2 separate regions of the Homo sapiens genome follow, and region 2 is linked to region 1. Evidence: fine-mapped expression QTL. A gene starts in region 1. The other region holds a variant in brackets. All regions are shown on one strand. Distances are from middle to middle. Region 1 holds the start of CXXC4 (CXXC finger protein 4). Region 2 holds the start of LOC105377351 (a long non-coding RNA gene).

Evidence for each region. PIP is the estimated chance that this variant, and not a neighbour inherited with it, causes the effect.
Region 2: its variant is the best candidate, but not a certain one, in a credible set for the expression of CXXC4 in cerebellar hemisphere (GTEx, PIP 0.52).

What each region holds. Positions count from the first base shown.
Region 1 is chr4:104,488,104-104,505,167 of GRCh38, reverse strand. It overlaps CXXC4 (CXXC finger protein 4), which reads left to right and starts at 10,274. Exons shown (of 3, transcript NM_025212.4): 1 at 10,274-10,467; 2 at 13,109-14,424. The coding sequence starts at 13,366. CXXC4-AS1 (CXXC4 antisense RNA 1) reads right to left here and starts at 14,203. Exons shown (of 10, transcript NR_125926.1): 1 at 14,108-14,203. RefSeq lists enhancers at 12,787-12,836, 16,839-17,028.
Region 2 is chr4:104,876,933-104,893,996 of GRCh38, reverse strand. LOC105377351 (a long non-coding RNA gene) reads right to left here and starts at 1,098. Exons shown (of 2, transcript XR_007058213.1): 1 at 1,030-1,098. It also overlaps the pseudogene RPL6P14. RefSeq lists an enhancer at 14,367-14,416. The variant GC/C (reference allele first, on the strand shown) is at 6,617.

The sequences.
Region 1 (17,064 bases):
ATGTTTTGTCTTTTAAGAATGCTATAAAAATATATTGAATAAAAAAGATTAATTTAGGAGATTTCATACTTAATATTTAACACTTAATCTGGAGCAACATACAGGTATTACATGAATATTGGGGTTTGCTACATCCCAATTAAAATGCACTTTTGAATAAAATGCTGGCTATTTTTCTCACAGTCAATGTTTAAAAAAATCTGAACAGACATAAAGGAGAAAAATGTTTTCCCAAGTATAATACTAGAAAAAATAGCCATTCTTTCTTTTACAGAACTTTAAATTTTAAAGAATGCCTATGTTTCTTAATTCTATTCAATTTTTAAAATCAATCACTCTCGTGCTGAATATTTTTAAATGAATATGACACTTTGCATAGATCCCATAAATAAACAAAACGTGCACAGCTTTGTTTATGTTAGGAACCTTCTGCTAAGTGTTGCTTCTATTTATTTACTTTTAAATTATGCCAGATTTTTGCAAATTTGAGTCAGTTTGGGGATCAACTTGAAATTTTAAGGACTGGCTATTTACTTTGCTTCTGATTACTTGCAAATATGTTAAGGTAATAGTTTTAATGGCCAGTAGAAGGTATAAGATGAAAATATACCAGATGTACTTAATTATGGAAATAGATGTACCTTGCCATTTTTTAAATTGTTTCTCTTAATTTCTTTTAACTTCCTCATTCTCTTTGCTTTCTCCTCACATCCTATAGCCCTATACCTTATAGATCAAGCTCAGATACTCCCTGATTTATGTAACATAGTATAAAAGGTCTGTAATGATGAACATGAGATAAGTTTCAATAAAGATAGGTCAGTAAATCAAAACTTTGCCAGGAAAGCCATGTTGCTAAAAATAAATCCTGCTTATAGGCATTCATGGCTGTAATTATAATTCATTAATTAACTCATAATAAAGAGCTGGCATCCATAAACTGACTTTCTCTTATTATATGTAATCTGGCATGCTTCATGAGATTTAGGGCTGGTTAGTTTTTCTAAGACAATAAAAATCAAGTGATAATAGACTTATATAAGACAACGGATACTGATACTGGTCTCACCAACAACCATCCAATCCCCTATCTTCTTCTTCCTTCTTAAACAAATCATGGCTATGTTCAGGTATTTCCTATCCTTCACACCGTCATGTGTTTCAGAATGATTACACCTCTAGTTCCAGGGCTGGTAGATACTTATTAAGAATAAGACAATTTCATTCTCTTTGAAAATGGTTGGTTTATGTGTCATCAGGTAACTCAATTTTGGGTAATTGGATCTTAGCGGAAGTCAGTGATGGTGCTTCTAGGAAAGTTCCTCACTCTAAAGACAAAAACGCATAAAAAAAAGAAAGTCCTTTTCTTTTCCCTAACGCTTTTTTATGCATAGATTATGATGTTGGAGCAGTAACTGTGAGGGAACTGCTTGAAGGAAAAAATAAGATAATAGGAATGATGAGCAAAGAGATGGAAGAAGCCTATATTATGTGTGATATCTATAAGCCACACAGGTTGTTCCTTGCCTGGAGTCTGCCCTACAAGAGACCTCATCATTTAAGCCAGTTTGAGTAATTTTCTCTTACATGTACTCAGAATTCTCAAAACCTTCTTTCTATCTATTCTTTATTAAAGAATAAAGTTATTTTGTTTTCTATAACAAATGAATATACCTGTCTGGATTTCCTCTGCAAGGAGATTAGCATGCAGTAAAATATCTAGAGGCTAGCTTTTGTTGGACATTCTTCAAATTTTGGACTCTTGATACTTGCTAAAGAAAGGTATGTAAATCAATCAGTGTTCCCATTAGGTAACAGAGTTGTTTCTTTTTCACTAATACAAAGTAGCCAAGAATTACAGGAATAGGATATGTTTTAAAATAGAAACATTTTAAAGGAAATGCCATCGTATCATCATGCATTTTAAAAGAGCCAAGTTACAAATTGGTAAAAACAACTGCTCTTTCAAGCAGTGCTACCATTATAAAATGTTAGCAGATAACAGAAAGAACTGGGGTCTGAACAGTGTCTCCCTCTTTTTAAAGAGTAGTTGTTCCCAAAGAAAGAAATACAATGTTATTACGACGATCCAACTCACATTACTAGTCATTTTGTTGATATTCAATGAAACATAACTCCTGATTCAGTGGTAATGAGTTCATACAATTGAAAATTTCATATTATTTACATCCTATTTGAAAATTAGTTCATATTGGAATATGTTTTAGGTGAAATTGGTTCACAAAAAAGGGATAAAGATAAAATTGAATATGATTTTAATATTAATCTAAATATAATCTTGTGGGATATAATTTCAAAGATGAGATGCTAACTTTTTAATATGAATAAAGGTGGCTGCAATGTTCATTGCTTTACTTAATTGGCCTATAATGGGGATACTGATAAGGCCATTTCTAGCCCCTAGAATGCCTTTTTGCTAATTAGACCCACCAGAACATGGCTTGGCAAGCAAAGCAATGGGCTGGATTCCAGCTCCTACTTGCCCATTTGGCCAGGCATTGTTGTGCAGTGAACAGCTAGCACAAGCGTACTTAGATGCCTTGAGTTACAAATTCCAATGCTTAGGTGGGCAAGTGTCAGACAGCAGGGAATGCTAAAAGTGCCGGCAAACTGGAGACTCCATCACTAATAATAGCTACAGCTACTATTTCCAGGATGGAATGTAGACACAATACTTTCAGAACTTCCAACTTATGAAAAAAACTGGAAGTCTAATTGAGTTTGTTTAACACCATGGTTCCAAACAAAAGGTATTTGAGAACCAAACTCATATTGTTAACTGGCAGTTTATAACTGGACTTAAAGGAAGTGTGTAGCCACAGCTACTTGCTCAGATACTACTGTTAATCCCAATCCAGTTAGATTCAGAAATGTTGAGCTCCTGGAGGTGATCGTGCAATCTAACAAAAGTGGGACAGAGGCTATGTTTTACATCCAAAGTAAGTCTCAAGTAGCAAAGACCATAGATGTAGATATGGAGTGAACAGAAAAAAAAAAGCAATAAATGTTAAATTAACTCTGAAGGAAAAAGAAAAGGATTGTGTAAAATTAAGTACTATGTGGGGAGAACATAGTTGTGATTTTCAGGTAGTTTGCTTTTTATAGTACTGCTCTACTAAATAGCTACAACACTTTGCTAACATTAATTAAACCTCACAAACCCTGTGAGATAGGTAATTACTGTAATTAAAGTGATATTCCAGATCGGTAAAATGAGAGGTAGAATGCCCAAGGTCATAATGATTGTATGACCCAGGTTGGCAGAAAAACTAAGTGTTCTTACATCATGTTACTCCCCTAGAAGGGGCTCTCTCTCTCTTTTTGCTTTCTTTCTGTTTCGACTAAGAAGATATAATGATAGGATAAATAAACTTCATCACTGAGAAGTTAAACTGCAAGTTGGTCAGGGAAGCTCAAAGACAATCTAGAAAAATGCCTAAATGAATGATCTGTATTCCATAAATAACATATATAATGTGCAAATTCCATTTCAATTAATTGCATTTATTTAAAAAATTTCCATTCAAATTGCTGGTTTAGCTAAATGCATCAGTAAATCAAGAAATCAATGCACGTAAAGCATTCCCCATACTGCACAACAGCATATAAAAGACTGTCATTAGTTTGGAAAGAGAACACAACAGACAGACAGAAGGAACTCTTCTTGTTGCTATAACTACGGCATAACAAAGGTCAGCACTGGGAAGGAAAAAAACCTTTCTGGACTGAACGTTAACAACTCAGGGATATTATCTTGAATTCTTCCTCTCAACAAAGAAAAATAGAATTCCTTTTTTAAAAAGGGAGTTAATTGAAGATAAACTAAATGGAAACACACTTAAAAAAAAACAAGCATGAAGAGTGGCTTTGATTTCAAATAAAATATTGAGACTAATATTAAGAAACCTGAACTTTTGCAAATGGAGATATCTAGGTTACACTGGAAGTCTAAAATCTCCAGGGAAAAAAATATAATTTTTGTGTTCACAACCATTTTGTAAAAATTTCTTTATTCTACTTAAAAATGGCAAATTCAAAAATGGTGATATTATATAATAGGAAATGGTTTAAGACAGATTTAATTTTGGAGTTTCACAGAGCTTAACAATATGACTTTTATAAACCTAATTTTATGTCTTTACAAGGTACATTCTTGAAGTAACTCTATTATTAAAAATTGAAGATTTTTTTTTCTAACTGGGTAAGTCCTGTCTAGCAATTTGAAGATTCAGAGGCCTCTTAATAAAATGTCCAGTGTCTGCATGTAAGCTTGTTTTAAATAAAAGGTCCACTTCTTCCTGTTGAGCGAAGTATTAATAGAACATTGGTTTCCTAAGTTACTGAGTTTGGAGTTTTGATAGAGAATTCGAAGAATTGAGATAGGGGACTATGTTACTTGATTTCCAGTGTCCTATAAATTCTGTCTAAGAAGACTTGTGTGCAGAAGAGAATGGCCGACAGCAGAAGGAAGTGACACCGCCACATTCTGGACTGCTGTCAGGGGAACACGGACTACTGGCACACTGAGCACTGTGGACAAAGTGTTTCCTGGTTAGCTCTTAACTACAAATTTCACCACAGGATTTCCTCACTTTATATTACTTTACCATTACTTATCTATCTGAAGAGATTTATCTTTCCAGAAGGCACACAGGTAGTTGCATGATTAAGGAGAATTTTCCTGGGACAAAGGCCAGCATGGAATGCTTTGATTCTGCCAGGCAAAGGAAAAGGGAGACCCCAAAGAACAGCTTGGGGCCCATGTTACAAATCTGAGTTTAGATTTGTTAGTGCCTGGAAGCTATTTACCATCACTTGGTGTTTTGTAGCAAAAGTGACCCATTGTTTCCTTCATGAGTAAATACTTTGACAAAATCTGGAATGTTATTGTTTGTATTTTCTAATAATCCAATGAACAAAGGATACCAAATATTTTTGGGAAAGTACAAGGAAAACAATAGCTAATAAAAATCAAGCTATGTCAGTGAGCCTATAGAAGAAAAAACATTCTTCTGGAGTTTTCCCTTTCTAGCCTACCAGAGAAAGTTTGGATTTCTGTGTTTGGGAATAGCACTTTCCATGGAGTGTTAGAGCTGTAGTTTTATAGAAATGAGAATTTATATGATGAGAAAAAATATCATGAGTAAATTAAAATGGGGCTAGACCAAATTTGGTCTTGCAAAGAACAATTCTAAAAATTAATGCCCAAAATAATACTTGGTACATATTTGTCTAGTGTCCAAACTGTATATGAAAATATGTGAATGTGATAAGCTTGATTAGCTTAGTTGATTTGAATATGGTGTTAATGAGGCCAACGTAATGGGTTTAACCCTGTGAACCCATTATTTTCATTATCCTCAATTGTCACAGTTTTTGTCCTTAACAGTGGCCAGCCATTCCATAAGTGCCTCCTGTTAGTCATTAGAAAGACAAGGTAAGAGAGTAAAGATAGCTGGAAAAACAGCTCAAAGCATGTGACCTACTGTGTTGGTAGGTTAAAAGTACCAGCTTTGAATATGAAGGTCAGCATTGTGATAACAACGTATCAATATTTAATTAGAAGTGAAAGAAAACAACAGGTGTGCAGAATATTGATTTTAAGAAGTAGCTTCATCAAATCCCAATTGTTAAGTCACCAAGACAACTTCTGAAAACGTTAAATTAAGGGATTTAAAAATATTATTTCATTATGCTATAATAATTTTTTATATGCAAAGATTTCTTTTATGGAAATAATAGTACTTCATTTTGGCTCACAGTTCATTATTAAAGATTTTCTCCCTCTCTGGTCATAAGGCAAATGAAGTTTTCTGAGCTAAGTGGATCTGCTAGAATAGTGGGTTCTTGGAAGGAATACTAGTAGAGTAGATTCAAAAGATGGAACCAGTTGGAGAAGGGCTTCATAAAATTAATTTTATAAATTTTGCACTTTTATCCTATAGGCAATGGGGAATTTACTTCCATACATTTTGTGTATACTACATTATTTCAATATGCATGACTCAGAATGTTTGGAACCTGCCATGTAGTAGGCATAGTAGGTATGAGGTGGGACACAAAGCTGTATAAGACACAATTCCCAATGTCAACCAACTCAAATTCTGGGAAAGGAGCCAGGTAAATAAAAATCCTAGGTAGATTTTTGGCCAGTCAAAAGAGTTAAAGAAATTATTCCCTATTTGTTTTAAGGGAATATTCCTTCTATAAAGGATGTGGTTATTTACTATATCCACAGTGAATTACTATGGCAAAAGAGGTGGTCCTCAGAGCCCATGAATGTAAGTTGAGATGTGAGTCCTTGGATATTAGGTAAGAAAGCTCCACACACCTTTTCTGACCTCCATGTTGTATATTTTCTTATGACTAATAGGAAACATCTCATTTGTGCGAGGTTAAAAATTACCTCTTGGTTTGAAAACACCAGCAGACAAGCTGCAGGTCCCCAAGATTTATCTCGGTTAGTTTATTTTTTATTTATGCTATTTTCTCTGATTGTATTACTTCTGCTTTCTTTATTCTTCAGTAAATTCTTGTTCAAATCTTCTAACCTTGTCTTGGCTATCCTACAAGTATTTAAGAAAGCTTAGTTCTTTCACAGTTGCCAAACTTTCCCTAAAGTCATTAAGACTGTTTTCAGTGGTAATCAGCAAAATAACTTCCAGGGAGCAGAGGAATTTCAAGGTTAGATTCAGGGCTGTGTGGTCTACTTAATCACTTCATCAGATTATTCTCCTTCTGTGTTACTCTGCGTGGAAGATAGCTAGCTGTCCCTCAGAATTGTTTCTCTACCCCATAGTAATAAAGCTGCATCTTGGAGTTGGCTTCCCAGTAATCTTTGCAGCTAGGTGTGGCATGTAACAAGTTTTTGACAATTGCATGTGAGCTACAGTGCTATGTTCCACTTTAAGACCAAGACTTTTAACAAGCCATCATAGCTCCTTCATGCCCTTCTGCCAGCTTGATGTAGTTGAGCAGTCCTTTGGAGATAAAATGTCCCAAGATAAAAGGAATCTTAATCTATGGATCACTCATAGAGAAGAATGGTCTCTGATCTGAAATTCCCACCCTGGACTGTTACATGAGAAAACACATACTTCTGTGGATTTTGCATTGGTAAATTTTGAGGTCTATTTATTTCAACAGAATATGCTACCTTTTTGGAGATTCTGGATAACAATGATGATCATGATTATGTTGGAAAGTAGCAGTACTTTAAAGATATTTGAGAGCAGTACATAAAATTTATGCTGAGTGGGGATACTTTTTTTGGGTGATGCTCAAGTTGGGATTAAAAAAAAAGTCCCATCAGGATAGCTATGAAACCTTTGAACTCTCTCCTAGCTAAGATTTTAAAAAATCATAAAGCAGGGTAAAGGCACAAACCACTTCCAGGTAATTGGAAGCTGTAATGGGCATTTTGCAGAGAAAACAATCTCACTTTTTCGTATATCATATAAAACTGTGGACTTAAAGAGAGTTAACAGAGAACTGAGTGTTCTCAGGTATTATTATCAAAACCCTGATATATCATTTTAAAGAAGACAAACATAGACTAATGTGAGACATGGTGCATATATGTATCTACACTAGTATAAAAAATTAATGGATATGAGATAGATGAGAAAAAAGATTTCCCTTGATCATATTTGGCTAAGTATGCAATCAATTCCCTAGTGGAAAGGAAACAGAATGCTATATCAGAGCCATGAGGTATATTGTTTATAATTTCTTTTATAAATTTAATTGATCCCATATCAACTAGGGGCCTACAATCATAATTAAATCTGAGGTTCCAGTATCCAGAGAAGGTTTATTGATTGATTAATTATTGACAGTGAGACTAGGGTAGAGGTTATAAACATAAGGCTTTGGAATAGACCAGATTGGGTACAAATTTCAAACTTTTTACATACTAACTTTGTGACCTAATCTAGGTTACCTCATTTCTCTGGGCCTCAATTTCCTTGTTTGTAAAATGGAAATAATAGCCACTTCACAGGATTATTGCAAGGACAAAATAGAATATCTGCAAATTACTTAGTGCAGGATCTGACACTAATGGGTCATTAATAGGGGCTATTATTATTAATTATTAAGACCAAGAATTCTGTAGTTTTCCTTCATTAGCTGGAAAGTAAAATTCATTGGAATTTAGAACATATTTTCTCTCACGTGTTTAAGATTTCATTTTGAAAGTAAGCTTGAAGAGTCCCAAAAAGGAAAGCATGAGAAAAGGAATTTCCAAAAAGGAAAATTTCCAGAAAAGAAAATTTGGCAAAAGAAAGCATGATGTCTTTATTTGATTAAAAACATTGCTTATTTATAAACTTCAAAATTTCTAACATTGGACTGATATTTTAAATATTGTGAAAAGATGTTTAAGAATCTATCATTTTTCTAGCATGTTTTCACTCATTAAAAAGTGACCACATTTTCCTGATAAATTTCCTATGAAGCTGAGCTAAAACAAAATAATCAAATGGAAAATTTCCTTTTTTGCTTTTATAATGCATTAGCACAAGAATAAAAATATCTTATTAACTTGAATAATTATTAACCCTCCAGTTATTTTGTCTATAGATGTCAAATAACCGGTAATAATCAAACAGCTTATGCTTTAAAAAAATTACAAAACATGTATATTAATCAATGAGTCACAAAATACACCTGTTTCCTATTGCAATAGTAGCCCACTCTTGAAATAACACCTTCATTTAGGCATACACACACCACAGTTTCAAACTTGTTATCAACAATTTATCCTCCATAGTTGGTAATGTCTTGATATGGTCAAAGTCTATCTTTTGAAAATTCAAATACAAAATGGTTTAAAATGTCTTTTCAGCTTTTTTTTCTTATTAAAGAAACAAAACATTATATTTTCCTCACTTATCTGAACAATTAATATTGCATTACTCTAGAATAAACACTTAATTTTAATACAAAACTTGTACTCTGCTTGATAACACCAATTTAAATAATCTTAAGTTTTTTCTTTCCTACTCTATAACTTACCTTAGCCACTGTTTTGCTCTTAGAAAAAAAATTATTCAAAAGTATTCATAATTCTGTATCTTATAACTATTTCCACTAGAGTATACTTTAATAGTAGGATAGCATGTGTCCACAAATATTTTATTTGAGGCAGCAGTGAAGAGGTTAATTTACAGCTGCATTTATGAACGAGTTTTATTTATATTTGACGTGCCGTACAATATTTATGTTTCAATTCATAAACTATGTTTTCCCAAGTGGCAAGAAGTGAAATGTTAATTACATACTATTCTAAAATAGACTGAAAGACAAAAGTTTTTGTTTAAGTAAAGTTTGAAATTAAAAAATAGGGCAGTGAGTTAAAAATCTGATTTATTCTTTGGAACTACCAGATGGAATAGTAAAAGAGGATTTTGGGAGGAGAGAGAGAAGAGTAGAGAAGAGAGACAGAGATTGAGATGGATTTTGAAATTGGCCAAGCATCATATCACCGATTTTTTACATTCTGGCATAATAGTACTTCGAGGGTCTGAAGAACCACACCGGTCCGTTTTCCCTTACTTTAAAGATCTAAATGGTATTTTTTTTTAAAGTCTTCCTGGGTACACCAGGAAATTTATTTAAAACCATGCCATTGGGTACGAACTAAGAGCATTCTTCAAACAAACATGACCTTTTCTCTGTTTCTTGTATTGCTCTTCTCAACCCAGCCAGAAATCCCAGACAAGTTTATTTACACACACACCCGCACACGCACGCACACACACACCCCACACGCAGAGTGGCGGAAACGCCCTCTTTCCAACCCTTCCAAACAATTATCTCCGAGAGCAAAAGAAAATAATCAACAGCCCTGTGTGCTGGGCTGAGCCGGAGAGCCGGGCGCGAGGAGGGAGGGCGATCCGCAGGCGAGCAGGGAAAACGTGGCTCCTCTGCCGAGGAGAGGATTTGTGAAAAGGAGCGCTGGCCCGCGTGCGCCTCTTGTTCCCCGTGTAATTTGCAGCCAATCATCAGTAGGTGTCCACGTCCCTGCGTCCTCCTCACCTCGGCGCCAATCACCCCCACCCCCGCGCCCCCGCCCCCAGCCTCCACACCTCCTCCCTCGCCTTTCTCTGTGGCTCCCCTCCCCCAGCAACCGCACACTCGCACACACACAAACAGAGAGAGAAGGGGGGAGGGTGAGAGAGAGGGGAAGAGAGAGAGAGAGAGAGAGGGGAGAGAGAGAGGAGAGACTCCCCGGCTCCCTCCCTCCCTCGCACACAGCGACTGGAGACGGACGGAGAGCAACGCGCTGGGAGAGGAGAGACCACCGACAACAGACCCGCGCTCTCACACATACACTCACACTCGACTCTTTCCTCTCCCCCCACCTCCTCCTCCTTCCACCCCCACCACTAACACCATCTCCTCCTCCTTCTCTCTGCAACAAGAAAAAAAAGCCATTTACAGGTATTTTTTTTGATCCGCATATTTATTTACCCCCCCCCCCCCAACAGTTTGTTTACAAGTATTAAAGTTGTAATTGGGAGCTGCCAAGACACATCTGGATTTGTGTTTCTTTGTGTTAGGGGGTGATGTGCAACTAATTAAAGGCAGACTGGCAGCGTCTGCAAATTCTAAGGCTCCCCAAATAAAAAGAGACTGGTAAGTGATTGTTCTTTCTCTTTCTCTGGCTTTTTTTTCTCTTAAATGTTTGCTGTCCGTTGGGATTGTGAAAGTAGATTATTAATGCTGGACTCCAGCAAGAAAAAGCGTCGCTGTATTAATTTATTAATTAGTCTGCACCCGCCCCTCCTCCTGAATGTTAAATATGACCTTTGATCTCTATGTCTCTGGTAGACCAGACATACAGTATTAGGCATGTAAAGTCACATTGTTTAAAGGCAAAACAGGATCATGAAGTATGGATCTCTAATTTAGCTTTGGCATAGAACTATAGTTATTTGTGTGTGTTTTATTTTGTTTTTAAATAAAATCCAAACAATAGCTGTGGCTTAGATACCTTTTTCATGCTCCAGAGATGCATTGATTAAACAATAATGACCTGGATACTGGGCATAATCATTTTCTACAGTTTCTGGTGGTATTAAACCTTGAGGTAGGAAGAGGGATGGTGATGGCAATCAGAAAAGCAAGGAAAGCTTGTGTTTGGAAACACCACTCTAAGACTCTAAAAAAGGGACGTTAAATTATTTATTTATTTGGAACAAGGTCAAAAGACTAAAAGGTTGAAAATTTTCCCTCCACTCAATGTGATGATATCTAATGCATGGTTGACATAACTAGTTTTTACTGAGTAGCAGTTATTATGGTCTTGCAGTTACAATGTGATTCGCAGAAACTGAAGCTATATGCATATTCTTGCTGTGTCTTCCCTCACCCCTTCCAAGCATCAAGAATATTTAGCCAAGAGCATTTTGGGGGCACCTTTTGTATTGCCCTCAGACCTGAGAAGGCAGCAGTTTTCCCTAATGCGAAACCACAGAGGTGGTTCCTGAGTGATTAGGGACTTGCTGTGATTGAAAGATGCCTGCAAGCTTCTAATCCAGCCTGGGGTGAGGTTCCTTATCTTGATTTACTTTGCCTAATAGGGATTTGTTTACATAAACCCCTCTTTTTAGAGCACCTCATCAGTAGGTCTTGAAGTTTTTGCACTTGGAGTTTGGGCATAACTGGTTCATTAACCTAATTATAAGCATAATTACTATAATTGATAACCATTTTGAACTCTGAATATTTGAGACGGAGACTATTGGGCCCCCATGTAGAATTCCCTGAACTCTGCATTCTAGACCAATCTATGGGCTTCAAAAGATGTCACAAAAAGATATTCTGGCCAAAAAATCTGGAAACAAAGAAACTGGTTTTTTAAGTGAATATACACTTTATGCCTTTGCTTTGCTTCTTAAAAGGCTGTGATGTACTTCTCCCTCTGTAATAAACAACTAAAATACCTCTTCCTAAAGCATAATAATGGCCTGTAAGCAAGGAGATTAATGCAAATACCCAGTTAACATTAAACTTTCCTCTTAAAAAGAGCAAAATTAAAAAATAATTTTGTTATTTTTCTCTGGCAAAGAACACGTTAAAGCCCCCCCCCCTTTTACTCAATGTAAAAATCAGTGATTGTGAGATATCCTTTTCAAAAAGTCCCATGCTTTCCTCTTGTCTTCGGAAGAGACAGCAATCTCCATTAGGAATGATTAGGAATATTCTTATAGAGGCTGCAGGCACTTGGTTTAAAACCTGAGACATTGCTGATATAAATAAATATGTATATATGTAATTATCTGGCTTATCTTTATTTTCTACCTTAAAAAAAATCAAGTAGAACACCACCCTCTTACCCCCACCAAGACCCACCACCAAATGGCTTGTACAATTGAGACCTGTCCTTGGTCCATTGAATTAAGACCCTAACAGAGCCAGCTGTGCTGGGATTCAAACTAATGACCGCAGACACAGAAGGATACTGTGGCAGCTGGTAGTTCTTTTTTCCCTGCCTCTTTAGTTCAGATTGTATGTGGGCAGTCTCTTAGCTCTCAGTTGTATTGTGTTTGCTTACAGTTTATACTCGGATGTATTGTAGACTTTTTCAGTACTTCATTTGCTAATTTCCTGTTCATTTTCCTCATAGGGCCATTGCTGTTTTCTACTTTACAGCATTTGCATGCCCAGGCAGCACTTGTTCACACATTTCATAATGTTTAAATGCCCTCTGCTTATAGGTAGTATCGCCCTCCCACCCATGATTTGCATGTCTTTAGCACTCCAATTGCCCTTTTCCTTAGGCGTTTGTCACCCCCGTCTTCCTTCTTTCCCTGGGTATCCTGGCTATTAATACATTTTCTCAGGAGGGTTATAAGAATAGGGGGGAGGAGCTGTGGTTTGCTGTGGGGAGGGAGGGAGCGGGGGTTGGGAGAGTTGGGGGGGATGGGCTGGGGGGGGTCACGTCTTGATGATTCTTATGCAAACGACCTGATGGAAGAATGTGGGAGCTTTCGGTGTCTGCGGTGGGTTAGTGAGGGAGGTTGTTTATTTTTAATCTTTTTCCTCGTGCAGCTCGTTGGAATGACTTTCTTTATTTTAGTTGTAACAGTTGGAGGATAATGCAAAGGAAGACGCTGCCTGGGAATTCACCGTCTGTGGAAATGAGCCCCAGAGAGGAATAAAGCAGCCCTCACCTTGCTCTCCCCACCCGAACCCACTTTCCCCACCCGCCTCGGCCCCCACCCCAACACCACCATCACTCCCTTCCCTCCCCCCCACCTTTCCCCCTTTTCCACCCAGGTGTCGGACCAGGCGGTCCCCACTTCCACCCTGCACCCCTTCTTCCCCCCCTGCACCATGAACACCAATGTCTGCGTGGAGCCCGGGCCGAGCCCGGAGGCCCCGGGCTTGCCCAAGGAAAGCCACTTGCCCGAGGGGGCTCTGAACAGCCTTGTGGATTACAACTCGGAAATGGAGCGCTACCGCTCCTTTGCCACCTCCTTCTACAAGACCAACGGGGGCGCCTTCCCACAGGCGGCCAAGATCGCGCGCATCACCACCCCCATCTTCCCCAGCAGCGCCGCCGCCGCCGCGGCCGCCGCGCGCATCGGCATGTCCCCCTGGAACTGCGACAACGCGGCCACCGCCGCCGCCGCCACCGCCATGCTCTGGGGCAGCGGCGGGGGCGGGGGCGGCGGCGGGGGGGGTGGCGGCGGCGGCGGCGGCGGCGGAGGCGGGGGCGGGGGTGGTGGGGGCGGCAGGAAATCCTCCTCCGCCGCCGCCTCCTCCTCCGCCTCCTCCTCCTCGGCGATCCTCCCCGCCGGCGGTGGCGGCGGCGGCGGCGGCGGCGGCAGCAGGACCAGCATGCACCACCGAAACGACTCCCAGAGGCTGGGGAAAGCTGGCTGCCCGCCAGAGCCGTCGTTGCAAATGGCAAATACTAATTTCCTCTCCACCTTATCCCCTGAACACTGCAGACCTTTGGCGGGGGAATGCATGAACAAGCTCAAATGCGGCGCTGCTGAAGCAGAGATAATGAATCTCCCCGAGCGCGTGGGGACTTTTTCCGCTATCCCGGCTTTAGGGGGCATCTCATTACCTCCAGGGGTCATCGTCATGACAGCCCTTCACTCCCCCGCAGCAGCCTCAGCAGCCGTCACAGACAGTGCGTTTCAAATTGCCAATCTGGCAGACTGCCCGCAGAATCATTCCTCCTCCTCCTCGTCCTCCTCAGGGGGAGCTGGCGGAGCCAACCCAGCCAAGAAGAAGAGGAAAAGGTGTGGGGTCTGCGTGCCCTGCAAGAGGCTCATCAACTGTGGCGTCTGCAGCAGTTGCAGGAACCGCAAAACGGGACACCAGATCTGCAAATTTAGAAAATGTGAAGAGCTAAAGAAAAAACCTGGCACTTCACTAGAGGTCAGAGGAGATGATTTCTTGTTTCCCAGTCTCCCCCCTTCCCTCCTCACTCCCTCTCCCCTTCAGGGATTCTTGTCTGGCTTCAAGATGCAGTACCCCTTCTCAGAAGCTTCATTCAGGTGGTAAGAGTTGTAGGTGGTTTGCGAAAGGCTTGGCCTCTCCACCACCCGCACCAGCTGCACTTCACGTGACACCGCCCTTCTGATAGAGAGAGTGCCCTCCTTTTTATCCCTGGGGGAAAAATAATGTAATTGAAGAATCAGAAGTTTCACATTCAATATGCTCAATATTTTCCCTTGGTGGTTTAAAATGCCCCCTCCTCCTCATTAAAAAGGGTGGGGCATCTTGCCCAAAGGACTGGACACATCACATCCTATACAAGTTTACTGGCTAAGTTAGTGGCCCATTTATAACAGTGAGGACACAGTTTGTGGTACACAAGCCTGTTCTCATTAAAAAACCGGTAACAAACCACACAGCAGTATTCAATGAAGTTGAAACACCTGGATTCAGAAGGGGATTTCCTACCCTTTTCTAGAATCATTTTTCTACTCATCAAGGCAGAATGTTTTCTATTTTATTTTCTGCGTATCTGATATTTTTGGAGAAAGCTGAAACTGTGTAGGAAGCGGATTTCTACCTGCAAATTTTGAGGAGATGTGACTTAGAATAAAGGGATACAATTAGTTAATTTCAGGGCAGATAAGAGTGATTTTGTTTAAAAATTATTTTATGTGGTTTTAGAATGAATAATTTCTAAAACTCAGTTACAAAAAAAGTATTTCCCCTGGGCTCTGCATTGGACAAAGTAACCATTTTGTGGTTACAAAGTTGGTGTATACACCAAGCACAGTTTTGGTTGATACCTTATATGGTCAATAATAGTTTCTTTTACCTATAGGTCTTTAAAACAGATATTGTACAGATGCTCACTAAAGTAATTGTTAAATTAGGTTATGAATTATGCTAAATACAGAGATTGATACCTTTGATAAAAATTTTGTATTGTGTCCTGATCAAAACAAAAATGGGGAAAAATGAAAAATCACAGGTAAATGACTTTGGTGGTATATTAAACAAAGAAATCTGGACAAGTACTTATAGTTAGTCTCGATAAAATTTACAGGGTAGATAATTAGATGTTCATATATACATGAGACTGTAGGTGGTGGGTTTAGCATTCTGTGCTTTAACATTTTAATATTCTGTGGAGTGAGTTGCAGGATGAGAGTGGCTCTCACAAGTTATCTTAGGGTTATCTGTACATTCTTTTAAAAATTGTGAGTACTGCTTAGAGGAGTTTGCTTTATGAACTGGGAAGCAGTCTTTAAAAGAATAAAGAGAAGGGTTAAAGATCTTTGGTACAGGTTTGAACACAAAGAAGATACAGTTTTTTTTTTAACCTTTAATTGTGTAAATCAAATGAGATAGCCCTCTAGGATTCTAAAAATATCAGAATTATGTTGATGTCATTATTGGGTATGATCAGTTTCATCAAAATATTGCATTTATTCTTCTTTATAAGATAAATCAGCTCTTTTTGGAAAGTTTAACTTTACTCCTGGATGGTTTATTACATTTTCTTTGGCAACTTTCTTTGTGCAAATATAATAGCAACTATAATGCAGGTCCATGTATTTTCTTAGGTGGCAAAAAATAGCTTTTGAATCTTCTTTGCCGGATTAATTTATTGTAACTTCTAAGGACTATGGGAAATTAAAATTCAGTTCATACTGAAATTCTCTATTCCCAGCTGATAAGGACAACATGGCTTTTATTTTTCCTCTTGAAATGTAGTATCTAGAATTATAAATTTGGTTCTGCTGTTAGGCCTCATCTTTAGCTAGACTCGTGGCACTACTTGCATCCCAATTTAAGATATGTAGTAACTGAATAATTCTGATTTATTTAGTAAATAATTACCCTGCAGGGGTTTGATATGAGTACCAATAGGTTTTCTGCACAAGTTTCTATGCTGGTGTAATTTTTTAATTTGATGCTTTTCCTACAAGCTTGTTGTGATATTTAAATTCCTCAGGCATTTTGATGACAAAATCCCATAAAACTACATTTTCTTCTTTTTAAAAAATTCTCATGCACAAAAATTCTGTTACTCTTCACAAGGTGGGGTATGGGTAGAATAAGAAGCTGATTTTTTCCTTTGAACTCTCAAGCTGATCTTCTAACTTCAGATCCCTTCTATCAGAGCATGGGCTGTGTTTCAAGGCTAAGATTATTAGCGGAATACTATTTGGCTAAAAGAAATAAAAAGCTTTTTTTCAAAATTGTATAAGATCCTATCTAGATCATTAAAAAAGACAATGCCATCATGACTGCCTTAGACCTATGTGCAAATACACAGTTATGGTTGTAGGAAACCAGCTGAGCACATGTCAGAGTGACAGGGCTTACATGACTGAACCAAAGCTGGAAGAGGAATTGCAGGAAGGTGAAAAGTCCCCCTGCTGACCTGGTTTCTCTCTTAAATTTGGTCCATCCTCATCTGGGAAAATGTTTTAGAGATTGGATGGGTTCCTGGCTGAGGGCAGTGATTTGGGGACTCATTGTGGATATCACCTGTGGGTTCCAGATGTAAACTCCATAGCTAATATTTGTTGGCTTTGAATTATGGGTGCCAAT
Region 2 (17,064 bases), 390 kb before region 1:
TTGATAAAAGTAATGTTTTGATGATGAGAAAAATTAAAGCACAGAGTTTAAGAAAATTTGATAAACTTAATTAAGCCAAAGGCAGAAAAAATAAGAACTAGAACTTCCAACCCCCTCTATTCACTTTTCTCAATTTAAAATTTCATCTTTAGAAGGTGATGTTTATCAGACATAAAATCCAAATCAATTAGATCTAAATGTTGGGAACCTTGAAAGGTTTAGTCATTCTACTGTTTAAGTTCTGTAATGACTAAGAACGTATCTTTTCCTTGTGTTCATCTTCATTGTTCCTATTTTACCCAGAGGGAAACATTCTTTGAGTAGGTTTATAGTAAGAATAGACAAACAATTTAAAACTCAGCTTGTTATACTAATGATTGACAGCTAACTATGTTGTATAATGGGAAGATGTGTTGGCTAGATAACAGAACTTATTATAGACCAGTACTCCCATTATCTAGTTAAGTGTTTTAGGAAAGACTTTCTTTATTCCCTCTCCCCATCTCACCACTCTCCTTCCCTCTCCCTTCCTTCTTTTCCTTCTGTTCTTTAAGAACCCCACTGTTCTCACCTGAGGAAAGATTGAGGATAATAAGGCCTACCACATAACTAACTGAACCTCCATGTTAGAGAGCTGTTGGGACAATTATATGAGACATGTAAATAACTTTACCCCTTTTTTCCTGTCTCAGTAAATACTACCACAATCCTTCCAGGTCCTCATTAAAACCTTTGGAGTCATCCTGTTTTTTTTCTTCTCCCCCAAACCTATCCAACTACAAGTCCGTTAAGATGTACCCCATATTTACTTTCTCCTTCTCCACTGCTACCATTCCATCGTAGGCCATCCAGAAAACTATAATCACCTCTAACTGGTTACCTTGCTTCTTCTCTTGTCCTCATTCAATTTATTCTCTATCTAGCAGCCAAAATGGGCTCTTAAAAACAAAAATAAAATCATGTAATTTCTCTGTTGAAAAGTCTCCAGCCATTTCCCATAACACTCAGAATAAAATGCAGATTACCTACCATGGCCTCTGAGGCAGGTTCAAGATGGCCACAGATTCTGTGACATTCCCATAGAAAAGAGAAGTGTCTGACTTTCTTCCCTTTGAATGTGGGCTGGCCTTAATGCCTTGTATGATTAACCAAAAAGGGCAAAGTGGCAGGAGTGATGTTCTGAGACTTCCAGGAGAGGTCATAAGAAGGCGTGGAGCTTGGATCAAGGCCTGCTCTGGGGGAAACCAGTCATCACATAAGTCTAACAGTAGTTAGAGACAGCCACGAGACCGCCATGATGCCAACTTGTGAGAAGAGCACGCCATGTGGAGAGGCCCTAGAATAGGAGATGCCATGTGAACAAAGAGCACCAAGGGAACAGACATTGAATGAAATCACCTAGTTTTGCAGCTTTAGCTGCCCCAGTAATACTACCCGCATCAGAGATAAATGTCCAGAAGAACTTTCCCATATCGCTGAACTCCAAATTGTGAGCAAAATAAGATGTTTGTTTTAAGCCACTAAGTTTGGAGATATGTCACAGAAATGGATAGCCCCATAGCCTCTCATGCCATAAAAGTGTAATTCTTTCCCCTATCTTGGAGTTCATCCCCTTCCATTTTCCCCTTTGCTTGCTGCCCCTGAGCTGCTGTGGCTTCTCTGAACACGTCAAGCTTATTCCTGTGCCACCACCTTGACACGTGTCATAGTCTTTACCCAAATTCGGACCCCAGACCTTTTCATACTTGTGTCCTTGTCATGGAGCTGAAGTGTTAAGTATCAATGGGACTTTCTGATCACTCCATCTGAATTAGCCTCACCATGCCTACATCGTTCTACTTCCTCAGTGTACTTTATTTTTCATAGCACTTATAATTCCCTGAAATGATTTTGTTCCTTTATTTATTTCCTACTAACCCTTTTGCAAATGCAAAGTAAACTTTTTGAGACCAGGGTCTTTTCTGTGTTTTTCACAAATGCTATTTATAGGGCTATTTATATTCAGTGCTATTTATATTCAATATTTTTCAATGCATGCATGTAAAAGTGCTTCAAACCTAAACAAGTTTTATTATTATTGCACCACAAGAAACTATTGCAAAAAACCATTGAGAGCTGGAGAAATATTGACTAGAATCTGCTCAGACATGTTCTAATAAGATATACCAATAAGATGTAGAGAATTAAAAATATCCAACAACATCAAACTTTAAGTCCACTTGAGTCAATCATAACAGTACATTTTCATGTTAATATCTCCTTTAGAAAACTGACAGTTTGGTTGTACTATTTTTCTATTCTCCCTTGGCACATGGCTCAATCTTTAGTTTTTTTTTTTCTTTTAACATCTGTCCTTTAATAACAATATTAAAAGTAAGGTGTTTTGGGGTTTAGCCATCCATAAAGTTATGGGACAAAGAGTCCATGAGACTGTTAAGTGTGTTAATCATTTAATATAGGAGGCACTGACCCCTTTCAAAGAAGGAAGAATAAACTCACAATCTGATTTATGTGAATTTTTGTTTTGCTTTACATTTTAACACCCAGTGACCACTTAGGGAGAAGGCTATCACCAATCAATAGTATTTAGGCTACTCAAGAGGAGAGATAACAGAGAGAGCCTAACATATTTGTAGAAAGAGCATCTCTACAAGGATTTAAGAGACAAAAAATTTTGATTCTGTTTCAATAAACTTATTGGTGTGATAAACTGTGTAATTGTCAGTATGTACCAGGAGAGCAAGTTTAATATATATTACAGTAGTACACATTTTAATATAGTCAGCCAGAGAAACTTACTGACTAGTAAGAAACTGAAATGTTAAAATGAAAATCCAGGCGTTGAGATTCCTAGAATCTCTGAAACCATCTTGCATCTCTCTCTCCATCTGCCTGTCAACGTGACTTTCTGAAATAACTAATCTCAAAGGAAGATTTTAGAAAAAAAAATCATGTGGATGTGTTTTTTTTCCCCTAATAAATGCCAATCTTAGGCAGTGTTTTTGTCAGGAGTCTCTGTTCAAGCTTTAAAAGCCAAAAGAAAGATGAAAATGAATACACCAAAATGTAATTTAAAATGCAAATGAAGGATCTGCAGAAAAGCAGCAAAGGCTAATTGTAGTTTTTCTTCATGCTTGGCTCTGTAGACAAAATGTGTTGATGTTACCTTCCTCCTGCTGGGAATGCCCAGGCTGTAGCTGTATTGCCACACTCTGACCTCTCAGATTAAATACACTTGATCTTAAAAAAAAACCCAAACCCCAGTCAGAAATCAGTAGGTACTTAACCCTGTATAGGAATAGGTGGAGAGGCAACCATATGTGACAGTGTGGTTGTTAACCTCTGAGGAATAGAATAGAATAGAATAGAATAGAATAGAATAGAATAGAATAGAATAGAATAGAATAGAATAGAAAACAGTAGTTTCATATTATAAAGAAAGGGCAACTAATCTATATACTCCAAGGGCTCACGTAGTATAGATTTTTAAAAAATCGAGTCCTGAATCAAGGACACCATTTGTTTTTAAATGACCAAGGCTTCAGAAATACTTTAGATTAAGTTGGAGTCAATTCTAAAATGTGCAGTTGTAGCTTCTTTCTTTTTTTTCAGTCCTGTCATACCTGGACACTATGTGCTCTACATTTTGTGGTGAGATTGGATAAATGCATTACTTGCAGCAAAACCTTGTTCACTCTTTTAAAATCTTAGAACTTGTCCAATTAAAAAAAAGCACAAAATAATTTGTAAATTCCAACTTTTACTTTGCTTTTTTTCTTTTCCTGGAATGGATGGATGTTATAATAAATACAAGCAACATTTTATCACAAATGTGAGTGGTCTTGCATATGTGCATTAAGACAGCCTACTCAAAGGTATTACATAAAGTCCTGGAGAAAGAATGGATTTACCAAATAAAATAACTGCTTGGAAAAGTTTAGGTCCAAAAATTATAATTTAGAATTATTTTTAATAGCTCTGGGACTCAAGTGGGATCCATTTCTCCATTATATGTATTAATTAGGGCCACAGAACCTGTGGACAGAAGAGATTGTTTTCTAATTCTCATTCTTCACTATCAAAACTTTGACCACCGTTAATAGAGTTCTACTGGTTCTTCATGCTATTTCCTGCCCTCCAGTATGGGTAATACTGCATTAGAAATTGGTCAGATGGAAACAAGAAGGAGCCTATAAAGGGAAGAGTGTGGATAATTGTATGAACCACACCAGGACATAATGTGGTCTCAGATGTCTCCACATATGCCAAGATTGAGAGGCTGTTGGGATCCTAAGTTAGGGAGGACACAGAGATTCCCTTGTACAGCTTAAGACAGCACAAGGGCTTGGGACTCACAGCTATTGTATTATGTTGCTTTGGACCTATTTCTTCAATTTCTTCGTCTTCCAAGATTTACCATCTGTGTCTTATCCTGCCTGAGAGCCATGGCTCCTTTTAGTAACACATACTTGTACACGTTAAGAGGAAAGGAAGACTTCCTTGTTAAACTCTATCAATTACTCTGTTCAGGGAATCACATCCACCTGTTTGCATGTCTGATGTGGTGTGTTTGAGGGTTTGGCCAGCACATGAAGAAGAGGAAAAGGAGTTGAAGTTCGCTTCTGAACTTTGTGGGACATAGTTTAACCACATGAAGAACAAGATTTAAAGCAAGTTTATAGGTCCAGTCTTAAAATACGCAAAACTGTATTAGGGTTCTTCATGCATAACTGGTTTATTTTCTCTGGGATTTCTTGCCTTTGGTTCTAAAGTTTTGAACCCATTATTTTTTCTTTTGAGGAGGGGAGGAAGTGAACTCTGGTGTTTCCTTCTCAGAAGCCACATGACTGAGTTCACTGGTGTGAAAATAAAACCCTTTTATAACAACACTCAGAAATACATTGTTTTCTTCTAGTAATTATTTTTCCATGAATATTTTACTTTGTTTTATAAAATTAAGACTAGGGCTGTCCTTAACTGCCTCTGATGAACAGAATGAGGAGACATTCTAAACACATTTGTTTAGTTGTTTATTTACGATGTGTTATAAATATGATACATATGACATCAAATTGAAAAATAAAATCAGGGGAGGTAAGAGAAGTCCTAATGCAGAAGGATAACAGAAGGTTAATCAGAAAATAAAATTTTTATGAAAAGGAAAATTTTATGAAATGAATGAAATGAATTTTATGAAAATGAAAATTTTATGAAAATGCTCATAAAAATCCCACTTTAGTCCTCTCGTTAATCTTTGGTTGTCAGTGTTGCTTTACATTGACAGTTCTCACCTTTCTCAAGTGCTTGAATGTTCCCTTCCCACCCGAACGAAAGGCTAATTTCCTACTTTTCTCAGATAGCCAGTTGTTATTTCTAATGTGAACCTGGCAGTCTGAATAACAACAAAGATACCTTATTTTAAAGTCTACAATTATTGGCTACAAAATATCCAAATATCCTTTTCTGTATCACTAGCTCAGGACAAAGTCTATCCAAAATAAGTAACGAATCTAAGATATTAAGATATTATTTGATTTAGCCTCTACATGATTGTCAAATGTGTTTTAGTATGTATGTTTCTCTGAATTCTTCCTTCCTTAGGACCCTCACATTAAAGTATTTTATTTATGATAATCTTTCCCTTATGCACCTCCATAGAATGATTTTAATAACTGTAGTAACACATTATTTTCCTTAATGATTGCAAACACTATAGTATTACTATGCATTAGGCACTATGGTAAATACTAATTGTTAACCCATTTATACTTTAACAACCCTGGATTATAAATACTATGACTGTCTACATTTTACAAATTAGGAAACTGAGGCACAGAGGAATTGATTAGCTGAACAAAGACAACACAGCCAGTAAGCTTGGAATTGCAATTCAAAAGCAGCCGGTGTGGGTCCAGAATTAATGTTATTAACCACATTGATGTGCTTTTTTTCTATAATAATTACTAAAACTTGTGTGTTTATCATCAACAGTGTAATGGAAGAGTAAAGTAATATATCTCCACTGTTATTATAGTAGTGGTATTATTGGTAGTGTAGCACTTACTCTACCTAGTATCTACGTGATGCCTTGAAATTGAGGTGCCAAGGAAAACAGATTATTTTCAGCCACTGGGAAATTTGTATAGGGTTACGTGGCTATGCAGTGTGTTTTAGATTCCTAGATCTGAAGAAATAACTCTGTGTCAAAGGTGGTTTGCACAGATTTCTGGATCATTATGAGGAGCCCTGTGGGAGCACAGCATCTGTAGTGGGGTCCAGCTCTGGATTTAGTTACATGACTTTGGGCGAGTTATCTGATCTCTATAAAACTCTGATTCTTTCTTTATAAAAAATCAGATAATTATGATCCCTCAGGATGCTGGGAGGTGATATTAAAAACTGACAACTGTCATGTGCTGTATCAATAAAAGTTTTGCTAGAGTTTTAGCAGAGAAAAATAATTGTAGACTTGAATCACCACTTTGCATATAACAGTTAAGGCAAGTAGAAGTCAAAGGAACCTGCACTGTAGAGGTTTCCACATTGTAAGTAGGCATATCCAATGTGTGTCATTCTTGTATGGACCAAATGGCAATAGTTTATTAGCAGTGAATGT[GC/C]TATTGATTATATTAACAGATGCATTAGATTTTTATAATGCAGACTTAAAAAATAAAACATATGACCGAGATTGATAGTTCCTACTTCAGTATCCATTTTCCTGTCTTGCCTTAGTAACAAACCTGGCACATTGTGGCCTAGAAATTAAAAATGTACAAACAAACGACATTACCCTTCTTTCTTTGCAACTAGGTATCACTATGTGACTAAGTTTTGGAAAATATAATGTAAGTGGAAATATTTTGTTGAAATTATGGGAAGATTGTTTAAAGGGAACCAAGTCAGTAGGGAAGATTTTTTTTTATCCCTTTATATTTACTCCCTCTTTTGCCGTGACTGTGGATATGATGTTTGGAACTCCAGCATGAGCTTCATGGGCTATGAAACAAAAGTGAAAGACAGCTTTCTTTTCCATCTTGCAAGATGGCAGACGAAAAAGTTGATAAGCTGGATACTAAGGAGGAAAAACCTGATGCCAAGAAGGCTGATGCCAGTGGTAACATTAAAAAGGCTAACCTTCAGGCTAAAAAGTCCAAGAAGAGGAAGGCCCACTGCAGCCAAGGTCCTGTTCTCATCACAGGAATTGGCAGATATTTTTGGTCTGCCATGTATTCCCAAAAGGCCATGAACAAGAAGTACTCAACTGCTAAATACAGAATTGAAAGATTCTTGCAACTGTTACAAAACCAGTTGATGGTGACAAGAATGGTGGTAACCCGGTGGTTAAACTTTGCATAATGTGTAGCTATGATCCTATTGAAGATGTGCCTTCAAAGCCGTTGAGCCACAGCAAGAAACCCTTCAATCGGCATGTGAGAAAACTATAGGCTAGCATCTTTCCTGGGACCATTCTGATCATCCTCACTGAATGCCACAGAGGCAAGCAGGTGGTTTTTCTGAAGCAGCTGGGCAATGGCTTGCAACTTGTGACTGGAATACTGGTCCTCAATCTAGTTCCTCTATGAAGAACACACCAAAAATTTGTCATTGGCACTTCCACAAAAATTGATATCAGCAGTGTGAAAATCCCAAAACATCTCACTGATGTATACTTCAAGAAAAAGCAGCTGTGGAAACACAGACACTAGGAAGGTGAGATTTTTGACCAAGAAAATGAGAAATACAAGACTATAGAGCAGTGCAAGGCTGATCAGAGAGCTGTGGACTCACAAACTTTACCAAAAATCAAAGCGAGCTGTCAGCTCCAGGGCTACCTGTGATCTGTTTGCCCCAATGAATGGAGTTTATCCTCAAATATTGGTGCTGTAAATTTCTTACAAAGAACCCAATTAAATAACCAATATATTTTTAAGTAGAAGATGGGATTTATAACAATGGAGCAGAATTATAGCAGCCAGAATTCTTGATGATATCATGGGTTCCTTGTATCAGTTATGGGCTATTTCAAGATTTCTTTTATGATAAGAATATTAAAAGAAAAAAAACTAAAGACATTTAAATAACTGGTATTTTGATATCAATTACCAAATCAGTCTTAACTTGCATACCATATTACTAATCTTCAATTAAATTAAGTAAAAATTTTTATATAGTTATTGAGTGTACATCAGCTTGTGAAAATACATTGTTATTGAGTTTTGATTGAATCTAAGGTCTGACTATCCTGAAGTAGCAAAGGAATCTTAAAGTTATTAAATATATGTACTTAAGTTAAAAAGGCATTTTTCTGCATTAGATCACTGAATTCAGAAAATTTATATATAGAATCAGACTTGAAGCTGTAATAATATCTACTATTTATAACCAACACTTTGGTTTTAGTAAAATAACATTATGTTAAATTAAGTTGATAACTTTATTATATTCATAGTTTTGACTACATCTATTTTATTATCAATGTTGTTTATCTCTAAGCATAAGAAGTTTTTATTTAATATGAAAAGGAGCTTCCATGATTATTATTTTCTTTTAGAAGGGAAGAATAATTTTTTCAAGTTTGAAAAATAACACTTCTGAGTATGACAAAAATTATATTACTATATTAGCTATAAATCAATCTGAAGACAATAGATAGAATTGATAGAGAACAGAGAATTCAGCTACAACAGTTTTTGCTGAAGTATCCCTGTCCTGAATCCGTCTCCCTGTCCTAAATCCAGAAGGTTTTTTTCCTGACTTACTAAGAAATTTATATCGTCACTTTATTTAAGCAAAACAAACTCTAGGATTGCCTGAGAAATGTCTCCATCATTGTAATAGTAACTTTAAAAATTAGCCCCTTTATCTTCATCCAACTGTCTTTCTCTTCCAACTATATCTGGCCTGTTCCAGACTATATTCTCTCTTGTATTTACTTTTAATTCAGTCTTGAGGTCTCCTCTGGAGAGTGGCTATAAGCTCTAGCCTTGCCCTGATGGGGTTCCAGGAGTGACCATAGTTGATGTTTACAATATGGCTTTCACAGGATTCTTCTTTATCCTGGCGGATGGCCTAACACCTAAGTATCTGACCTGTGACCAGGCGTCCCTCTCCTGGGAAACTTGTTTATGCCATCGGATGCACTGTGGTTCTTCTCTAATCTGTGCCCAGTTTATCCCTACCAAGACAGCCACCTTCCAGAACAGCACTGATCAGAAGGAGAGTTCGGTTCAGATGTATTAGTCAGGTGAGACAGAGGTGGCAGCACAACAAACACGTAAAATAACAGAAGAAATTTTTACTACTTACCAATCTTAGAGAAAAGAGGGCAATACGTCTTGCAGGACCAGTGGGGTCTGGGACACACATGCTCAACTAGCAGGTGGGGAGCAAGAGAGAGAGGAGGGACCAGAGGACCAAAGCCTTTATTGGGGTTCAGGGTGTTACCCAAACAGGTTTCCCAGGGCAAGTTCTAATTGGTGGGTTTAAAGCAAGCAGGCACGTGTTCCAGGACGTCATGCTATGACTGAGAAGTGGTCAGTGTGACATATCTGAACAGAGTGGGAGGTCTGTGGGGACAGTCAAGTAGGTTGGACCTAGCTGTCCCATGTGGAAAGGGTCACCAGGAAGTTGTTGTTGCACAAGGCAAACATCTGGATCAATCACATTGAGGAACTGGTAGGAGGCAGAGAATTGGAAACTGTCAAGAGTGACTATGCCCTGTTTCTGTATAAGAAAGTCCAACTTATACTTAAAATGAATACGGAGGCAATATAAAATTATAAGAATTCACTAGATCCTGAATTCCAGAGCCATTTTTTTCTGGTAAGAAACAAGCCACTTCTTGATTAGCCATGCATGGGGGTATTATTGTTATAGTAGCAAACACAACCATGTGAAAATAATTAAGATTCACCCTCAATGGTGGAGAATGGCTGGTTGCTTCATAATGCAAGCTGTGGCAGAAATGGAGTGAACACGCTGACTCTCAAGGAGAGCTCAATGGCCCTTATAACTTTTCTGGAAGGAACACCATAATGTGTAATAGAACCAACACTGGCTTTGGAGGAAGAAACTCATGGGTTTGAAGCTCCACTCTGCCACTTAGTTCTGTATGTCTGTTGGTAAATAATTTGCCCTCTCTGAACGGAAGTTTCCTTGTACATAAAATAGGGGTAATAATACTTATCTTGGAAGACTGTTGTGAAGATTATGGATTGTATGGACTTATGGGCAAAATGCTAATGCAGGACCTGACACCGCAGGTGTTCAGCTCATGGTAGCTGTTATTATTACCAGCCTCGATTGTGACTTTCTTATATTGTGATGAAGAAATGCAATGAAAGCCTCAAGGTCTCAAAGGTGAAAGAGGCAAAAAATTAAGAAACAGGGCAAAGTAATAATACCACAGTGAATCAACTTATATCCTTGTCATGTTCCTGTTTTCAAGGGAGGATGTTGTCTTTTTCTCCCCTTCACAATCTAGCCCATGACAAGCATCCTCTAAGGTGGCTGTGTATAACATGGCACTATGGTGGAGGAAAAAAGTGCTACCAATTTATTACCAATTACAGTTTATAATCTGGGATGAGGTTAAAAATACTTGATAACTGAATAGCAGAAGCACCTGTGTTGCACACACCAACTACTAGCCTATATCAGCCTCACTTCTTTCCAAGAACAGTCAGAATGAACACTTAGACTATGCCAGCGTGGACCTTTTCACTAAGTAAGCAGCTGTTTTGATATATTAGGAAATGCCTGAATAAGAAGGAACACGACTGTAACTACATGACTTTACTACTCTTATGCGAGCTGCTTGGAGACATACTCTGTAAAATGTATCAACTTTTGCTTGGTTTTCACTTTCAAAAATTGTTTCTGTCAACAAGGAAAATTTCCAGTTCCTTAACAAGTGGAAAATAATCAGAGTTTTAATCTTGCACCTCATAGTAATAGCGTAGTAACTGGTATTTTCTCAGTATGCGCACCAAATATTAAAAAAAAAAACTTGAGAACTTTCACCTTGGCAAATATGTAATTTTAAAAGATCATAGGCGGTGGCTCACGCCTGTAATCCCAGCACTTTGGGAGGCCGAGGCGGGTGGATCATGAGGTCAGGAGATCGAGACCATCCTGGCTAACAAGGTGAAACCCCGTCTCTACTAAAAATACAAAAAATTAGCCGGGCGCAGTGGCGGGTGCCTGTAGTCCCAGCTACTCGGGAGGCTGAGGCAGGAGAATGGCGTGAACCCGGGAAGCGGAGCTTGCAGTGAGCCGAGATTGCGCCACTGCAGTCCGCAGTCCGGCCTGGGCGACAGAGCGAGACTCCGTCTCAAAAAAAAAAAAAAAAAAAAAAAAAAAAAAAGATCATAGGAGACAGAGTAACCAAATATCCAATATTTCAATTTAGTCTAAAATCAGCAGTAATTCAAGTAAATAGGAACTGGGTGGTTTTTTTAAATATGAAAATGCGACTTTGTTTCTAAAATTTGGCTTGGAGACATGTTAAATTGGTCTGGGAAGTTTCTAAGAATCCCTTTACCTTCAGGCTGAGGAGAAACATTTAGCAAGCTCACACTAACAGTGTTGGAAAGGGAAGAAGTATAGGAAACCAAAACTCAGTTTTTGATTAGCACTATACTCATGATACTTCTAAAGACAAATCGGTTGTTTCCAAATCCTTTGGCTGGTCGGAATCCTAGGGAATTTGCCCATTGTTGGCACTGTGGTCTTTGGAGTGTATTTGTATACTGGAAACCCAAAGGATGCAGGAAACGTGGGTTGGTTACATATTCTAAACCTCTTAAGGGTGACAAAAAAGCACCCACAGCTCTGCAGGGTATGGTATTTTAGGAAGAATCATTGCTTGTACTGTGCTGTATTCCCATTTAATGTACGTTAGGAATGTCTGAAAGGTATTCAAAACCTCCAGATTCACTTTCTATTGACTAGATGGACCATACTGGTAGAGCTCCTGGTACGCTGATTCTCAATCTGAAGCCAAGGGTACAGCTAGGGCTGTGTTTTCTCTGCCAGTACAGTGAATTAATCGTGGGATAACTGGCAGAATTCAGCTCTGGGTCAATTTTCAGTACAAACTCTATTACTGTGTCTAACAAGGCTGTATGAACTGCCTATTTATGTATGCAGAAATGCTCTATATAGACAACATTATCTGGTATAAACTGAACTGCACTTGTGCCAAGAAAATAGCTCCACATGCTGCAGACATCTTGGCTCTCTTCTGCTGCTTTTCAGGTGGTGTGAATTCTGGCAGGAGCCAAAAGTCAAACTCCAGGATAGAGCCTGGGTCTCTGGCCCACCAGCTATGGTGGGCAGCTTCATAGAGCACATGAGGCAGCTCCAGTTGGCAAGCAGCCCCTTCCTTTTAATTAAAGCCATTGGCACCTTCGGTAGGGGAGAAACAGAAATGGGAATGAGTTGGTCTTCACTGTACACTGAGGGTGTCAAAACTGATATCTTCATTAAAATAGCTTAAGCTGAACTTATCTGAAAATATCAAAAATTTATTACAGGGAGTCTAAAGCTTTATTATCATCATCATCATTGGGGAGGGATCAGGGGCAGACTTATATAATATCTTGAAGACTCCTAGGCTCCTGGAGTGAAACTGTTATGACTTGGCACCAATGTTGCTAGAACATCTTGTAAGCAGGTACAATGCCAAATGAACACATGTGAACAAGAATGCTCAGCAAGGAGGAAATGTTTATTTTATCAGTGAGTATCATAACTAGAAATAGGATAGAACTGATCCATCTGCTTCATGGACACAGCCATCCAGGCTTCAAGACAATAGATAACTGGTGCAGAAGTTGGTGGCAAAAAGAAAAAAAAAAAAAGATTGTGCATCTGTCCCCTAGTCAAGCCTACTAAACAAGCATTTTCTAAGGTCTAAGCATATTTTACCTGCCCATGCTCCCAGAGAAGGGAAACATTGGAAATCAAATCTGTATGCTTTGCTGCTCATTAGACATTGTTATTCTCTGGGCAAGTAGGGAGAAGAGTGGCTAATTGTTTTGCTGCCTTTTGCATGTATATTATTGATGAAGACTACATAGTTTCATTGATAGTTCATAAATTTGCAGATAATATGAGAAGGAAAAGGAAATTCAGTGTGTGTCAAGAGCAGACAACTTGGTTTATTTCTTCTTATATGGTACCCTAACATTGTCTTTGGAGAGAGTTTTCCTTTTCTTTCCTTTTTAAAGTACAACTTTATTGAAATATAAGTGACATACATTATACTGCATATATGTAAAGTGTAAAATTGATAAGGTTATGTATCTATCCATGAAATATCACAAGTAAGATAATTAACATATTCATCACTCCCAAAGGTTTTCTTATGCCTTGTTGTAATCCTTTCTTCCTGTTACACCCCATCTTTCTCACTCTCTTTCCCTTTTCCCAGGCAACCACTCAGCTGCTTTTTGTTCCTATAGATTACTTTGCATTTTCTAGAATTTTATCTAATTAGGATCATATAAAATGTCTTCTTTTTTGTCTAGTTTCTTTAACTTATTACACTTATTTTGAGATTCATCCATATGATTATGTGCCAACAGTTCATTCTTTTGTATTGTAGAGCAGTAGCCTGTTACATGGATAAAGGACCATTTGTTTTTTCATTCACATTTTGATGGTATTTGGATTTTTTCCATTTTTTTTTTACTATTACAAATAAAACTGCTATGAACATTCAAGTACAATACTTTGCATGGACAGTTGCTTTTATTTCTCTTGGGTAAATATCTAGGAGTAAAATGGCTGACTCTTATTTATTTAAGAAACTGTCTACCTGTTTTCCAAAGCGGTTGCGCTGTTTTACATTTCCATCAGCAGTGTATAAGGTTCTAGTTCTTCCACATTCTTATAGACATTAGATATGGTAAGTTTTAAAATTTTATTCATCTTAATAGGTGTGTCATGGTACCTCAATGCAGTTTTAATTTTCATTTCCTTAATGACTAATGATGTTGAACATCTTTTCATCTGTTTATTTGCAGTCAGCATGAATTCTTTGGGGGAGGTGTCTGTTCAAATATTTTGCCCATTAAAATTTTTTTCTTATTGAGTTTTGAGATTTCTTTATGTATCCTTTAAGTTCATCCTTTATCAAATATATGATTTGCAAATCTTGTCTTCCTAATCTGTGGCATTTCACTCTCTTAATGGCATTTTTAAAAGAGGGGGTTTTTAATTTTGATGAAGTCCAATTTCTCAATTTTGTTTTGATAGATCTTACTTTTGGTGCAGTACTCAAGGAGTCTTAGCTTAACCTAAGGTCCCGTTCTTCTACATTTCCTGTTTCTCTCTCTTTTTATTCCTTGGTGCCTGGAGCAGAAGTGGCAGAGCTGGTTTGTAGATGTGAAGAGATTCCTGTTTTCTGCATTCAATAGCTCTGTGCAATCTGGCTACTTGCCATTTGGATTTAAAGCATTAGAAAAAAGACAGGAGCAGGAGACTTGAAAAGTTTCTGTGAAACCTCACATTATAACTAAGAAAAGAAAGCCACTAATTGCTTTCAGAGAACTTGTCAAGAAGGTTTCAGATGTACTCGCAGTCGGTTTTTCCAAGAAAAAGCAAAAGCAGTTTTATACGGTATTTTGAAATGTTAACCAGATTTCTTAAAACTTGTGTTTTGATAGCTAAACAATAATAGAAATAAAATCTGGTAAAAGTTGTTACCTAATTCAGTGAACTTTTCAAAGTTTTTATTTTCTTATTTTTATGGAAAAGAATAACCAAAACATTCACAGAGTGAAAAGTCTGCAATACTAGGGCAAAGCACTTGTTTGGCACAACAGGAAAATAACTGCATCATACCAGAGTGGGAATACATGCAGCTCTTCTCTAGTTTCTAAATCTGAAAGCAGCATTATTATCAGGTGGTGATTACATTTTTGGAGTGAAACAGTGAATTTGTCAAAGCACTTATCTATTCTGCTTTTGGTAATACTAGCTTATGCTTTTTTCTTTTCCAAATGCTTTTTATATAAACTATCTGATGGCATTCTCATCACTGACATTACTATACATATTAGAGAAGTTAGGAACTTGAAGAAAAGTTAAGTATTTTGCTCAAGGTAACATTGCCAGTTAGCAGAAAAACCAGGATATAAACATTTTCTTTCTCTAATAGTTTCTCCGCTGTTAGGTGCTGCTCCTTAAAAAAAACAAAGCACCTCTTTCTGTCAGTGGGATGTTTAACTGTACCCACTTCTGCTTCTGTTAATATCCATCAATAGATGAGAGTTAAAATATTCTTTCTCTTACTTTGTGTTCTCTCTAATTTAGATTTTATATTTTTGTAATATGAGCTTAGAGAATGACTCAAAATAAACAATGTTGGTACTGAATGAGCAGTTCTAAAAACTTAAAATTTAATTCACTTAGGTTATAATAATGCAGATCTCAATATTCCATTTGGTCACAATTTTAGGAAATATTTGTTATTAATTATAATTCTGGTATAAACTACATTTGTTGAAATTGCTTTAATTCAAGGCAGCTTCTATAGGATATTTTTCAAAACATCCCAGTGTTCTGAGTGACCAAATACAGAAATAAAGCCTGTCCCTTAAGACATCTACCTTAAAGGAAACCTTATAACTGTGAAAAGAAAATTATTTGAAAAGTTTCCATTTAACTTAATTAAATATTTATAGAGCAGATAATCTAAAAGAGTTGCTTAGTTAATGCTAGGTGATCCTTTTACTGAATATCTATTTTGATCTTATCACTCATATTGCTCATTACTTTTAAGACTTTTGATCATTTTACAGAAGACTTGGGTCTTCTGTGTTCTGAGGTTTAGGTTTAAAACTATGACACTACACCGAGGAGGGTGTCTATTGCTAAAGCTGGTTTAAATAGTTTAACATGCAGTCAGAAAATTTGTTTTGCATTGACAATATAAAAGCTAGCTGAAGGGTATGGAAATGCTCATATAGGAGGGAGGGAGAGAAGGTTAAATTTCTTGCCATGGGCCACGCTGGAGCAACTGTTAACAATTTAAACAAGGATTTTTTTTTTTTAACCAAAACCGTGCAAGCATGGTTTCTTTCCTTGAGGCAGGCAAAGGACATGGCTGGGCTCATACATTTTTAGCAGCTGGCATGTTAATGAGATAATTTCTATTGAAATGAGCTAAATACTATTACCATTTGTGGACTTCCAGCTGATTCTAAGGCATTTATTGAACTTCAAAAAGTGCTCCAGAATCAATTCAAAGTACATTTTTAGATTCATGTGTATGTTGGTACCTATATACATGAACAGTCAATGTTTATGCTTATGTGACTTGGCTCATGAAGTGTCCAGATTTCTTAAAGCTTGTGTTTTGATAGCTAAACAATAATAGAAATAAAATCTGGTAAAAGTTGTTACCTAATTCAGTGAACTTTTCAAAGTTTTTATTTTCTTATTTTTATAGAAAAGAATAACCAAAACATTCACGGAGTGAAAAGTCTGCAATACTAGGGCAAAGCACTTGTTTGGCACAACAGGAAAATAACTGTGTCATACCAGAGTGGGAACACACTTGAGAATTTCAGATTTAAACTCATTATTTTTAATTATAACACTGTCATAACAAAGCACCATAGAGTTTGTGGCTTAAACAACAGAGATTTATTTTCTTACAGTTCTGAAGGCCAGAAGTCCCTGATCAGTGTCTGATGAGGGCTTTTTTCTTCGCTTTCTGATGGCTGCCTTCTCTGTGTATCCTCACGTGGCCTTCCCTCATTGAGTACATGTGGAGAAAAAGAGAGACACCAAGCTCTCTGGTGTCTCCTTTTTACAATGGCATTAATCTCATCATGAGGGCATCACCCTCATTTAACCCTAAGTACCTCCCAAAGATCCCACTCCAAATACCATGACATTGGGGGTTAAAGTTTCAACATATACATTTGAGGGGGAGACAGACATTCAGTCCATAAGAAATGGCATATGTGGCATCCATATGTGGGGAAGTTGTCCCTCAGCTGTTGTAAATGTGGGTCTGGACTCAAGAGTGAGATCTGATGTGGAGTTAGA